Linked DNA regions of Homo sapiens. The protein of the gene in region 2 purifies or fractionates together with the protein of the main gene of each other region. This does not show direct contact. Each region holds a gene or a part of one and is shown on either strand. Other genes may lie near its edges.

Region 1 (3,500 bases), on a different chromosome or scaffold from region 2:
AAATAAAGTGTTCTTTTCAGAGCATTAGAGCCTGGGAAACATGGCAAAGTTGTGTATCCTTTTTTAGTTTAGTTCTTGGTTCCAGCTGAATAATTTGAACATTAAGGGATTCTGATTCTTCACTGTGGAAGTGGGCTCCTGAAAAGTAATTTGCAACTTGAATATAAACTTAATTTTTTTATTTTTTATTTTTATTTTTGAAATGGATTCTTGTTCTGTTGCCCAGGCTGGAGTGCAGTGGCATGATCTCTACTCACTACAACCTCTGCCTCCCCGGTTCAAGCCATTCTCCTGCCTCAGCCTCCTGAGTAGCTGGGATTACAGACGTGCACCACCATGCCCGGCTAATTTTTTGTATTTTTAGTAGAGATGGGGTTTCTCCATGTTGGCCAGGCTGGTCTTGAACTCCTGACCTCAGGTGATCCACCCACCTTGGCCTCCCAAAATGCTGGGATTACAGGCATGAGCCACCATGCCCATGCCATATAAATTTTAAACCTAGCAGCTTCTGTGACATTTTGAGCTTGTTCCATCTAGTTTGGGATGATTCACGCAGAAAATATTGCACAATCAGAAGTCCCCCCATTCCCTGAAATGGACCAGTTCTCCAACAAAGCTTGTTTCTTGGAATAGTGAGCTGGGGGTGTTGGGAGAGTGGAGGAGGATGCATCTGCAAAGGATGAATTTTGACTCTGAGGTGTGCACGTGTCATGGTGAATGAATATTCTCCAGGTGGGGAGAGCAAATTGGTGCATGTAAGCTCTGGTAGTAGCATTTCCATTTAATAGTGGAGCACCATTACTCAAACTTGGCTTCATGTGAATGCCTGTGTTCTAGTGTAGTCAGAAAGGAATTCTGGATTAAATATTTATTTGCCATGTACAGAGAAAACTGTAGTGAGAGCTAGTTATAGGAGTGTTAAATGTCTTCATTGCAGAGTAAAGATTGTGATCAGTTTGGAAATACTTGGGTTACTTATTACACATAACTCAGTAATCTCAGACATTTATGTAGTGCTTACCATGTACTGGACACTCTTTAACGTGCTTTCATGTATTAATGTATATTACAACCCTATGAGGAAAATACCATTAATACTTCTGTTTTAAAAATGAAGAAACCGTGATATTCAGATGATGCATGACTTGCCCAAGGTCATAGCTGGTAAGTGATGGAGGCAGAATTCAAACCCAGGCAGCCCAGCTCCACTGTCCACACTCCATCCACTACTTTGCTCTCTCTTCATTTTGTCCTTTGCAAGGTCGTGGGTGTACAAAGTGGAAAACTTCTGTCCTGACTCACCTGGAATATCCAGTTTACAGATGTGCACAAACCCAGTTGCACTAGAATCACCCTGCCATATGCCAACTGCCCCAGTGGAAACGCAGCAGCTTCCTGGCAGCACAGACGTGGGAACACTCAAGCCTGCTGCTAGGGCAAGGGAAGGGGTCACGGAAGTGCAATACTGAAGAATGAGCAGTGATGCTCTGCTAGATAAATCTGGGGGAGGCTGCTGGAGGTAGTGGGATTAACATGTATAGGACAGAATGGCCGGACAGAACCAGGGGAGGACGGGTGGTTCATCAGTCACTAAGGATGCTCCCCCTCTTCTTGGACAATTCAGAAAGTGCCTTGACAAAATACTTTGATCATGAACTGGCTGCTAAGTAAGTCATTATTCAGAGAAACAAGCAAAGCTATTCAGTTCAAAATCCTGTCCTGCTCAAGTGAATCCTGCATTCCCCATCCACACGCACTCAACAACAACAAAAGGACTAGAAGGATATGTGTCACTGGCAACACTGATTTCTCTGAATGGTGCCCTTATTAGTGGTTTTAGCTTTCCTTTAATTACTTTGCAGTTTTGGAATTTTCTGCAGTGTAGGTATTCATTTTATAATTAATTCAAAGTTAAAAATTACTTTATGACCAAAGCCAGTTACTTTTAGCTATGGTATGCCTCGCTGTGTAGTCTTTTCAGTGAATTCATCTCAAGGCAACTAGACTGAACTAGACTGAACTAATCATAGATAAACTGCAGGGATTAAAGTTTACACAAAATTGCACATTGCTTGTGGAAGAGAGAGGAGAAACTAAACCCTCCAATGTTCACATTATTCAACTAGAACTGAGGAGATGAGTTGTCAGAATGATGGACTTGTGCCAGCTGAATGTTCCAGAGTGATTTCTACTAAATGGTTAATGGAGGGCAGTGAGCGGAGGGAGGGAGCATTGTGTAATGCAGCTGCAGGTGTTGGCTTTGTCACCCTAGTTGGGTTGCGCACTCTCCTGAACTGACCCCAGGGGCAACTAGGCCGTGGCAGCTGTTCCCCAGGCCGAGGCCACGACTTGTCTTTAGCCAGATGATGCCCATTGCCAGGTCCTGCCTGTAGGCCCCGCAGTCTGTGACAAGGCTTTCCTTTGGCCATTCCCGACTCATTCAATTCCCAGCTTATAGGAATTATTATTTCTTCTTTAGGATGATTCCAATAAATTTCCATTAAATGACTGTAACAGTAAAGATTAGCTAAATGAGAGAAACAAAGGCTGTAATGAGCTTGCTGTAGCAAGGGAGTCAGACTTGCATATTGGCAGAGGAGAGGAAAGCTTTATTGTGGAAAAAAGGGAAGCCTTTAGGTGTGTTCTGATTGGAGGTTGTTTACAAGGGAAGCTGTCTGAGGATTTACTAGAAGTCGGGCAACTGATGTGATTGGTTATGGGTACATGTTTGGCTTAGCCTGGTTGGTCCTATGTTGGAAGTGGGACAAAAATTAGGGAAGCTATCAGTTATTAATCGAGTTCTGGCCATTTGGGGCCAATTGTTAGGGAAGTTGTTGTTCGGTTTCCTGGATTGTCACTAGAGATAGCAATCTGGCTTTCTCTGTAAGTCTAACTTGTAGCAGGCTGGCTTCCTTGATTGTTTATTCTAAGTAAGCGGGTTAGTTTCCTGGACAGGTGTGGGTGAAAGTTCTATTTTTAAATATGGTCTGGTAATTGTCTATTTGTATATGTAGTCCCTCACAGCAGAATCTGTTTTGTCCATATATATATATATATATACTTTTTTTTTATGGTGAAAAGATATATATATATTTAGAATTAGGCAGCTGGACTCAGTTTAGATGATCCCAATTTTGTTGGCAACATCCAAAGCATCATAATCAGGAGCCAGTCGAACATATACCTTCTTCTCTCCATCAGGCCGAATCAGGGTGTTGCCCTTGGCCACATCATTGTCATAGAGCTTCTTCACAGCCTGTTTAATCTGGTGCTTGTTGACTTTAACATCCACAATGAACACAAGTGTGTTGTTGTCTTCCATCTTCTTCATGGCGACTCAGTGGTCAGCGTAAACTTGATGATAGCATAGTGGTCAAGCTTGTTTCTCCTGGGGGCGCTCTTCCGAGGATATTTGGGCTGTCTCTGGAGTCGCAGGGTCTTGGACCGCCGGAAGGTGGGTGATGTGCGGATCTTCTTTTTTTTTGTGGCTGTGGACACCT
Region 2 (4,271 bases):
GGTCAGGAGTTCGAGACCAGCCTGACCAACATAGAGAAACTCCATCTCTACCAAAAATACAAAATTAGCTGGGTGGAGGCTGAGGCAAAAGAATCACTGGAACCCGGGAGGCAGAGGTTGCGGTGAGCCCAGATCACGCCACTGCACCCCAGCCTGGGCAATAAGAGTGAAACTCCATCTCAAAAAACAAAACAAAACAAAACACCTTTTAAAATCTATTCTTTTTTTTTTTACTGAACATTAACAAAAGTTTATTTATGTTTCAATTTAGAAATTCATATGTTCCATAGTGAAACCCCGTCTCTACTAAAAATACAAGAAATTAGCCAGGCGTGGTGGTGGGTGCCTGTAGTCCCAGCTACTTGGGAGGCTGAGGCAGGGGAATGGCGTGAACTCGGGAGGCAGAGCTTGCAGTGAGCCAAGATCATGCCACTGCAGTCCAGCCTGGGCGACAGAGTGAGACTCTGACTCAAAAAAAAAAAAAAAAAAAGAAATTCATCTGTTCCCCCCACCCCCATCTGAAACTAAATATGGAAAAAGAAACAAAGACTTAATAAAGAAACTTTCTGTTAAATGACAAGCAAAGCAATGATGAAAGCCTAAAATACATCTGTGTTTAGGATGCAAAGTAAAAATAGCTTTTTTTTTTTTTTTTTTTGAGACAAGGCCTCACTCTTGCCCAGGCTGGAGTGCAGTGGCATGATCTCGGCTCACTGCAGCTTCCTCCTCTCAGGCTCAGGTGATCCTCCCACCTCAGTCTTCCGAGTAGCTGGGATTAAGGCGCACGACACCATGCCCAGCTAATTTTTATATTTTTTGTAGAGACAGGGTTTCACCATGTTGCCTAGGCTGGTCTCAAATTCCTGGACTCAAGTGATACGGCTCCCTCAGCCTCCCAAAGTGCTGGGCTTACCGGCATGAGCCACTGCACTGGGCCAGATTGTTCTTTCAGTCTAGGCATGCCCCCTTCTAGCTTCTGTTCTAACACACTCATCGGCTTGGAGAGGGAAGTGAATGGCAGACTGTCAGTCCCGCGAAGTCTTCTGAGATTATCTGGTTCAACATGTTACATGTTGTGTGTGGTGAAACTGAGGCTCAGGAGTGCAAATGGGCTTATCCAAGGTCATACGGGGAACTAGAGGCCCCAGACCTCCAGCCTGGGCCTTAGGCATCTGGCCAATGGCCCACAGTCCCAAGGCCAGGCTGCCAGAAGGACAAGGAGGTAGAAAGGAATTGCAACCAGAATCTATGGTGTATGGTTAATACGTGTTACATGCTAACTGCAATGAGGTCTTGAATGCCGAGTTGCTCACAGACTCACCCAGCAGCAGCTCGGCCTGGAGTGACAGGTGAGAGGGAGCAAAGGGCAGCTGGCGTGGGCATGGAGCTGGCTGGGTGTGCCCCAGGCCTCTCCCTCTCATCTCTAGGCCTCACCTATCAGCGCTTCCTTCCTGGGCAGGGCTGAGGATTCACTCACTGCCCACGGCCGGCTGAGCAGGGACAGGAGAATGAGAGGCCTCCGCTGGCGTTACACTCGGCTGGTAAGGGTTCCAACTCCGTCTGTGGTGCAGGTTGGGAGGTGAAAGGAGGTGAGGTCTCTGGCAGGGTGGGGCCTGGGCTAGGGTTGGATGCGGGCAGTGACTTGTTCCCCTCTCAAGTCCCTCCCTGGCAGGCCTGTGGTTTGGAGCAAGGACTGACTCAGGAACATGGGGTCTTAACACCCCTGCTCCAAGGTTCTCAAGGGGGACAGACCGATGTCTCTGTCCCTTCCTCCCTGGAGTGGGTGCTGGATGGAGCTCTGTTCAGAGCCACACACAGCTAGACCTGCCTCAGGCCTGAGCCTGGAGAACAGAGCGGGGCAGGAGAGGGGGTCCTGTCCATCTCTCAGCCCTTGAGAGGTCTCTTCTTCCTGGGAAAAGCCTGCAAGGTCATTGTGTGGAGGCACACACATACACATACATATAACATATACACACTCACACGCATACACATGCAAACACACACACTCACACACTCAAACACACTCAAATGCACTCATACACACTCAAATGCACTCACACACTCAAACACACATACAGACACACACACATTCAAACACACACACTCACACACACACTCTGGTACAGAGTGGAAGCTCGGATGAATGAATGAGTGAATAATGATGCCCCTTATGGATGTAGATATTTACACCATCACAACTCACACAAACACATTGATATATAAACACAAATTTACACTCAATACCTCCACACATTGATGTGCCTACACAACTCTATTCCAAGCCAACACACAATTCGCACAGACAAACACATTTTACATGAACCTACATGTATGATCCCACATATGACTGCATGCATCATTTCACGGGCTTCATGGGGAAACCTTTGGGCTTCATTTTCTTCCTTTGGAAAATGCTGATAAGAAGAAATACACAGAAGGCCAGGCGCGGTGGCTCACGCCTGTAATCCCAGCACTTTGGGAGGCCAGGTGGATCATCTGAGGTCAGGAGTTCGAGACCAGCCTGGCCAACAGGAGGAACCCGTGTCTCTACTAAAAATACAAAAATTAGCCAGGCATGGTGGTGGGCACCTGTCATCCCAGCTATTTGGGAGGCTGAGACAAGAGAATTGCTTTAACCTGGGAGCCAGAGGTCGCAGTGAGCTGACATTGCACCTCTGAACTCCAGCCTGGGTGACAGAGCAAGACCCTGTCTCAAAAAAAAAAAAAAAAGGAAAAAGAAAAAAGAAGAAGAAACACACAGAGATCACAGACAGTGCACACTGAACACAGGCCTGGGCAAGGATGGGTTTTTTGTTGTTATTATTTAATGTACAAACACACACAATTGAAGCTCCCAGGGCTATGCCACCACCTGCCTTCCCCTCTGCTCCCAAGCTTAGAACTTGATCCCTGCCACCCACCCAGGACCATGGCAAACAGACCGACAAGTCGCACGGCCCACGGCCCCATCTGAGCCTTGTGGGGTGCTGGCGGGGGTGGGGGGACTGTGCTCCAGCCCTCAGCTGGCAGGGGCCAGGGAGGAAGCAGGCTGGCGGCAGGGGCAGCGTCCTGTCTGTCGTGGAAACCCCCAACTACCCTGGGCTGGGCTGGGGGTTACAGGCACATGGGCAGGGAGTGATGAGGTGGCCCGAGGAGGCTCTTGGGCTCAGGAGATGGTAGAAGCTGGGACCTCCTGTCCCTGGACACACCAGGCCACTTTGTGTTTTTGCAGCCCAGCCAGGTGGAGGACACCCTGTCTGGGGAGGAGGGTAACGAAGAGGAAGAGGAGGAGGAGGCAGCTCCAGACCCAGCTGCTGCTCCTGAGGATCCCACGGTGCCCCAGCTGACAGAAGCCAGCCAGGTTTTGAGTGCCTCAGAGATTCGGCAGGTCTGGGCATTGCCCATGGCACAAGAATTTCAGCCCTAAACCTAAGAGTCTCACCCTCCTGCCCTACACCAGCCACGCCCAGGGGCACCTAGAGTCACTCTTGCTCTGTTCTCATCATGCGTTACCTCCGGCAAATTGCTTCTTCTCTCGGGGCTTTGCTTTCCCTTCTTGTAAAATCATCCAGTGTTGCTAGCACCTCCCTCTACACTGGGCCAGGAGGTTAAGGAGGTAAAGAAAGAGGCTAGGACGGGCGCGGTGGCTCACGCCTGTAATCCCAGCACTTTGGGAGGCGAAGGCAGGGGGATCGCTTGAGGCCAGGAGCTGGAGACGAGCCTGGCCAACATGGCAAAACCCTGTCTCTACTAAAAATACAAAAATTAGCCGGGTGTGGTGGTGTGCACCTGTAGTCTCAGCTACTCGGGAGGCTGAGGCACAAGATTTGCTTGAACCCAGCAGGCGGAGGTTGCAGTGAGCTGAGATTGTGTCACTCTGCTCCAGCCTGGGTGACAGAGTGAGACTCTGTCTCAAAAGAAAAAAAGGAAAGAAACTAATTCCTACCTAGAACCAGCCCTTGGGAACTGAGGCCAAAGCTGGAGAGGGGTGGGCGGATGAGACGGAGGATCAGGAGGAGGGTTCAGCATCTTTCCTATTCTCTAGCCTCTGGGGGCAAGGGTGACCAAGCAGAAAGAGTCCTGAGAGTCCTGACCTGGGTTCAAATCCTGTCTCTACCATTCACTACCCATGCGAGCTTTGGGCTAGTTGTTCCACCCTCCCTGGGCCTCAGTTTCCTCATCTATAAGATGGGAATAACAACCCCTATCTCCGAGGGCTATGGCTGATGGCATGAAAGTCCCTAGAAACAGCAAACTGCTCTATCGCCTGT

What was found.
Region 1: the proteins of TLDC2 (region 2) and GLDC purify together in Homo sapiens (affinity purification with mass spectrometry; one large-scale study listed by BioGRID and IntAct). This does not show direct contact.

The regions. Positions count from the first base shown.
Region 1 is NC_000009.12:6,639,230-6,642,729, reverse strand, and holds part of GLDC (glycine dehydrogenase (decarboxylating), mitochondrial precursor), read left to right. Parts: intron 1-3,065; exon of another isoform or gene 3,066-3,500. UniProt on the Homo sapiens protein: The glycine cleavage system catalyzes the degradation of glycine.
Region 2 is NC_000020.11:36,874,667-36,878,937, forward strand, and holds the start of TLDC2 (TLD domain-containing protein 2), read left to right. Parts: upstream 1-1,471; 5' UTR 1,472-1,508; coding exon 1,509-1,541; intron 1,542-3,232; coding exon 3,233-3,388; intron 3,389-4,271.